Linked DNA regions of Homo sapiens: region 1 is reported to be linked to region 2. The links are microRNA targets in miRTarBase. Many come from high-throughput screens and were not tested one by one. Region 2 holds a microRNA gene; the other region holds the end of a gene's coding sequence.

The links. Region 2 holds the annotated microRNA hsa-miR-7705 (AAUAGCUCAGAAUGUCAGUUCUG, at 1,236-1,258, shown strand). A microRNA usually pairs through its seed, bases 2 to 8, with sites in the 3' UTR of a target mRNA and lowers its output. Matches are read on the target gene's strand: a 7mer-m8 pairs with bases 2 to 8, a 7mer-A1 pairs with bases 2 to 7 and ends in A, and an 8mer does both.
Region 1: miRTarBase lists RAB18 as a target of hsa-miR-7705. Seed matches in the 3' UTR shown: 8mer at 981-988.

The regions. Positions count from the first base shown.
Region 1 is chr10:27,537,239-27,540,659 of GRCh38, reverse strand. RAB18 (RAB18, member RAS oncogene family) reads right to left here. Exons shown (of 7, transcript NM_021252.5): 7 at 1-2,784. The coding sequence ends at 2,609. Among named protein-coding and RNA genes, the nearest start is that of LINC02680, 27 kb to the left of the region's middle.
Region 2 is chr8:100,700,839-100,704,259 of GRCh38, reverse strand. MIR7705 (microRNA 7705) reads left to right here and starts at 1,236; the gene lies at 1,236-1,292. It overlaps PABPC1 (poly(A) binding protein cytoplasmic 1), which reads left to right. Exons shown (of 15, transcript NM_002568.4): 15 at 901-1,344.

The DNA.
Region 1 (3,421 bases), not on the chromosome of region 2:
CTAACTTTGTACCTTTTCTAAGTCAGGATTTTCAGTCCACTCTGAGCAGGTGAAAGAAATAAGACCACCTACTCCACTACCTTAACTTTTATGTCACATGACTTATGAGGTAGGTTTACATCATGGGATTTACTCTATAACCCAAAAGTGTGAAATACTTCTATTACATATAACAAAAGAGTGATAAAGAAATAGTGGAACTGCCTTAACTTGGTTGTGTTACAAAAAGCTGGTAACTAACTACCCATTGTAAAATGAGCGATGGTGAAGAGTATGGGCTCAGAAGTAAAAATGCCATGACTGGAATCCAGCTCAGTGACTGAGTAGCTATGTGATCTTTGGGGGTTACCTAACATACCTACATTGTGTTGTCCTCACCTTTAAAATGGGCATAATAGGAGTACTAATCTCTTAAGGTTGCTGTGAGGTTTAATGAGATAATTCAGCACTTAGAAAGGCATCTGGCACCAAGGAAGCTTTCAATAAATATTAACTATTACTCAGAAATTGAATAGTTTTTTATTTGTTTGGGTCAATCTCAGTACTACTAGAACTCAAAATACTATATTCTAATTGTTCTAATTTGTACCATCTGCAAAAGACCCTTTAAGACTGCTTCAATGATTCTGAAAAGAATTAACAAAACCCTGTTACTAGGTGCCTGACCTTAGATATTACAACTGTTTCATTTACAAAACCTCCACTACAAAACACTAAGCTTGCAACAAAACAACAAAATGAAAGCCACATAATTTGAGTAACACAATAGTACATATTCTTCAGCTGATGAGAGTAATAGGGAAATGTATATACTTCCTACACAAATGCATCTAGGGAAAGCAGGCTATATTTATTCAAGAACTAGAAAAAGGTTACAATATAAATCTATCAAACAAAATTCATTTTTGTTATATTCAAGTAACTCATATATATTCAAATTTAGACCAAATCAAGACAACAATCCAATACACAGATTATTATATAGCTCAAGGAGCAAAAAACAACAGTCTTGTCAATACAGACTCTACATAAATACACAAATCTCAAGTTTTAATATAACATGAACAAATCACAAGTACATGTGTTAGTGTTCTTTCTCCAAATTTCTAGTAGTAAATCTTGTATATTTAGTAAAAGCATATAGAATGTATAAAACCTTCAACCACATGTAATGTAGACTAGGAAGTGTAAATCAAGTAGAATGTGAGGTTTTTATATGTAAAGATGTACATTTCAGAAAGAACCCAACATGAAGTAAATTAACAAACATATTGCAAAGGTGGTCACTCACAAAAATGCTTATCATTTGCAATTGTATACAGAGAACAAACTGCCCAGAAATTAATACTGGAATCTTACTGAGGGGTATTATAGTAACCAACCTTAAAGGACAAATAACTTATTTGGGGGGTTAAAATAGCAGAGATCAGTGTAAATTAAATAACACATGAATGAAAAAAATCTACAATATACAATAGCAAGAGGTGAGAAAACTGAATACTGTGAAAAAGATTTATTAGTCTGTACAAGTTGGTTTTGATGAACTACTGGTTACTTGTTAAGTAAATTGTCAAGATTTTCATTGTGACAGTATTTTCCCTCACACATCAGAATCTGGAAGCAATATGCCTTTTTCAAATTATCACTTAGTGTTTTTTTTCCCCACCCCTCAAAACACAGAAATAGGTTTTTGAATATCAACTAGCCATTATGGAAGCCGTAAGATACAGATATTCATCAACATTACACAAGCTACAGTTAAGGTACCTGGACAAACACTACCAACATTTATGAAAAAAGATGTTGGTTTTAAAAGTGTATGAGGAGTTACAATAAACACACTATTCATGTCCTCCTGAAACCAAAATGGGGGAAAACCTTATTGTCATTCTGCCAAACACCACATAACTAAAAATGCTGCACAGTCATGAATCCAATGTACATATCACAGGATTAAAACTCCAGTTAAGCAACTGAGCTAATCATTGAAGTAAATTAAAAATACCAAGCTTCTTTAACCTATCAATGCTGTTTTAGAAGCATCATCCGAACAAATAGAGATTTAGTTATAAATTGGCCTGGGCTACATTCTGTGATGAGAATTTTGCTTAGTACTAAAAAAGAATCTCAAACATCCCAGAAAAGCTGTGGAATCATGCTCTTTATTATTCCTGAAAGAAAATTTGCCACGTTTGATGATACCTCTATTCTTCCCCGTGGTGCTAGGAGTTCTAAATACCAAGTAATTCAGAAAATGATAGGAGTATTTAAGCAAAAAGAATAGCAAAAGCAGACTTTGTATCAACATATCCTAGATAGATGGATTTTTTTAAAAATTACATGATAAATGTAAATCATAAAATTGAATGTACTTATAAAGGTACACCTATTTTGTGCTACATAAAAAAACTGTAGACTGCAAACTGTGCATGCTTACCATAACATTTTACCCGGGGTCGATGAGTGGGATTTCTTGCAAATATTTACTGCTATGATATAAAACAATTATGTGCAAACTGCAAGGTCCCTAAAATAGCAGTTAAAGAGTTTATATACAGAAAGATGTCACTATCTGATCAAATATGCAAGAGATGGAATTTCCCAGAGTTTATAACACAGAGCAATAACCACCACAGGCTCCTCCTCCTTGGCCTTCTTCCCTGTGTGACAGTTTGACTCCTTTATTCTGGTTCTCACTTTCCCACAGTCCAGGGGTCTGAATGATCTTTTCAACAAGTTCTTCAAAGGCACATTGTACACCATCACAGGTTTTTGCACTTGCCTCTGAAATTCAAGGAAAAAGGTCATTCATAGTATATTCCTTTCTGGCCATATTCTCATGTTTTTCTGGGAAACTATCAGGGCATAAATATCAGCCTACAATATATTAAGATCCAAATCAGCAATTTTTCCCCAAAGGTCAATAACTAGTGAATTTCCAAATCTCAAAATTGAGCTAATTAAATTCTATCCATAAGAATACTAGTATATAATTTTATACCAAAAAAACACTGGTTTATAATCTTAAAACTGTGATAGAATTGTAACTTGTAAAGCCCTACTTAAATAGCGAGCGAAAGTTTTTTCCTTAAGCTTTCAGTTAACTCTTACAACTTGCTCCCAAGGCAGATATTATTCCTATTTTAAAATAAAGAAATTCATACAAGTTAAACAATTAATCTGATTATTCTGTGCCTTCAACCAAGCAGCTCCAGGCAGCTGGACAAAATGACAAACCACCATGAAAACTGGTCCCACAGCAAATGTTTGCTCATGAAACTCAACTGGACACTCAGCACTGCTTCCAACCCTGCGTTTCCTTAGTGATGATCTTTCTCACCGTCTGAGATGAGTACTTTATTCCTTCCTCTCAAAACTCTATCGCAGCTAATAATCTAGCTGCATTATGCTGAGAAAATCA
Region 2 (3,421 bases):
TTTCTTCATCTTTTATAAAGTTTGTTGAGCATATTTTGAAATGTACATAGCAAAAGATCATTTTACAGTTCATTTAAATGTATTGCTAATTTTTCAAGGAAAAGTGGAACTAACTATAGAGGAATTAAAGGAATTTTACCCGTTAACTGTTGGATTTTTAAAATCCCAGGACTTTCAGGTGGTGTTTTTTTTTTTTTTTTTTTTTGAGATGGAGTTTCGTTCTGTCGCCCAACCTGGAGTGCATTGACGCGATCTCGGCTCACTGCAACCTCCACCTCCCAGGTTCAAGCAATTCTCCTGCCTCGGCCTCCCGAGCAGCTGGGATTAACAGGCCCATGCCTGCCACCGTGCCCAGCTAATTTTTGTATTTTTACTAGACTTGGGGTTTTGCCATGTTGGCCAGGCTGGTCTGGAACTTCTGACCTCAAGTGATCCGCCCACCTCGGCCTCCCAAAGTCTTGAAATTACAGGCGTGAGCCACTGCGCCCTGCCAGATTTTGTATAGTAATATATATATAAAATGACCTGTCACAGGTTGGCTTTCATAGTTTTACCTTTCCTTTTTGGGTGGTGCCCTTGGGTCTCTACTACTGTCTTTCATCACTCCCAAGAAATTGAGTAGTGCAGCCAGGATCAGGACCAGGGATTGGCAAATGTTTTTTGTAAAGGGCCAGATAGGAAATATTTTGGGCTTTGAGGACTGTGTTATCTCTGAAATGATCTTGTTCCAGTGTTACCATGTCAAGACAACCATAGATAGTATGTATACAAATGAACAGGTATGGCTGTGTTCCAGTAAAACTATGGATAAAAACAACCACATTGCATTTGGCTAAGGGCTTTAATTTGCTACTGACAAGTGATAGTCCTGGTCTTAATTTGTTTTTTTAACATTTACAGATTGATCAGGGACCATGAAAAGAAACTTGTGCTTCACCGAAGAAAAATATCTAAACATCGAAAAACTTAAATATTATGGAAAAAAAACATTGCAAAATATAAAATAAATAAAAAAAGGAAAGGAAACTTTGAACCTTATGTACCGAGCAAATGCCAGGTCTAGCAAACATAATGCTAGTCCTAGATTACTTATTGATTTAAAAACAAAAAAACACAAAAAAATAGTAAAATATAAAAACAAATTAATGTTTTATAGACCCTGGGAAAAAGAATTTTCAGCAAAGTACAAAAATTTAAAGCATTCCTTTCTTTAATTTTGTAATTCTTTACTGTGGAATAGCTCAGAATGTCAGTTCTGTTTTAAGTAACAGAATTGATAACTGAGCAAGGAAACGTAATTTGGATTATAAAATTCTTGCTTTAATAAAAATTCCTTAAACAGTGCACGGATTTGCTTTTTTTCAAAGTCTTTATAATTGCCATGCATAAATAGGTAATATCTTAATGGTGCTGAGCCGACATAAGAATCTTTTATGAAAAATGTACTGTTAAGTTCAGGGGGTCTATTGGTTTTATGTAAAAGGCACAAGACAATTCCTGTAGTGCATTTTATGAGTTAAGGTTTCCATACGGATTATTGAAACAATTTGTTACATGTATTTGTTACATGATCTTAATATTTCATGTACAAGACTGACACCCATCCACTTTTGAAGATAAGCCAGTTTATGGGGTTTTTTTTTTTGCGGGTAGAGGTTGGGTCTCCCTATTTTGTCCAGGCTGGTCTCGAATTCCTGGGCTCAAGCATAAGCATAAGGCTTATTCCTGCATAAGCCACCATGCCTGGCCTGCCAGTTGATGATTATATTGAGGTTTCTAGGCTATGAGATTATTAGCTTAAACCCTTACATGATATAAAACAATGATAGCTACTCTTGAAGAGGATGTAGATAAGATAGGCTTTGGTATGATTTTAATATTAAAGTGTTAAAAGTTATGATTAGTTTTAAACCTTATTCTTGTAACGTCTTTAATTTGGTAGTTCATGATTGTGGCTTAATTTTAGTGTAATACCCAAAGTACTTGTTAAAGGTGAAGATGTGGGGTTCTTTTAGGAGGATGGATTTAGAAGATCTAGCCTGGAGTATAGGGTATCTGCATAAAACTGATAACCCAGGCAGTTTACACTTTTAGGTTTTAATTTCTAACCGATCATTCTCTGTGGACTACTGCTAGAGTTAGCTTTCTAAGTTAAACGTGTGGTTATCTCATTCCATGCTAAACAAACAATTCTATTAACCTTCGGGATTAAATAAATCTAAACAAAACCCTAGCTTGTGACAGTGGCAGCCCTCAATGCTGATGAAGCCTAGTGATGCTTCTGTACCTAGAATGCTTTTCGCTTTGGCTTCTTGTTTTGAAACTCAAGATAATACAAACTCCACCCTCCTACCCTTTAGCATAGAACAGTGCATCCAGTGGGGATCCTGATCATTTTGTATTTTGCCTCACAACAGACATACCCTCTCAGGGGCTGATGCTTCATTACAATTTTTTTTTTTGAAAGATTTTCTTCATTGTGTTAAGGCAGAGAAACACCATATTTTTTCAAAATTGTAATACAAAATGGTTCAAATTTTGAGGTTTTAAAAGAGCCGGCTATTTTGAGACACTTGAAGTCAAATCTATAAAGTTCACACACTAGTTCACACACCAAAATCTAGTGCCAGGTTGGGTTCATAGCTTTATACGTTAGGTAGCTGATTGATTGGAAGTCAGTATTTGTTGTGAGATTCGAAGATAAGTCATATTCATCTGTTCCTGAAATGTCTGCTTTTTCAGATAGAGCAAACTTTAAGTGGCCAGAGCCAACAGATTTGGGGAGTAGGCATTTGGATTCTTGCAGGAATTAAGGAAACAGTTGATTCTCATTTGCAGATTCCGTATTTACAAATTTGCCTACTCACTAAAATTTATTTGTAACCCCCAAATCAGTGTGCATGCTGCTTTCATGGATGTGTGCAGAGCAACAAAAAGTTTGCGTCACCTGATAACACACTTCCCAGACGAGTATCCCTTTCATGGTCTGTTGAGTGCTATGTTCTTGACATTTTTGTGCCTTTTGTGGGTGGATTTTGCTGTTTAAAATGGCCCCCAAGCATAGCGCAGAAGTGTTACCTGGTGTTCCTTAGCACAAGAAGGAAGAGATGAGCCTTTTGGAGAAAATGGATGTTAGGGAGGCTTTTTTTCAGGCATGGGTGACATGAGTTACATGAATTCAGTATTAATGTATATTAAGGTATCTTAACAAACACATAAAACAAGGTCATGTATTAATTGCTGGAAATGTCACAGGCTTACAGGAACCTAACCCTGTCAGTACAGGTTGATTATCCCTTTTCAGAAATGCTTGGGATTCTGGAATATTTACATATACAGAATGAGATCTTGGGGACGGGACTGAAGTCTAAACAATTTATTTCATACATGTTACAGCCTGAATGTAATTTTATACGGTATT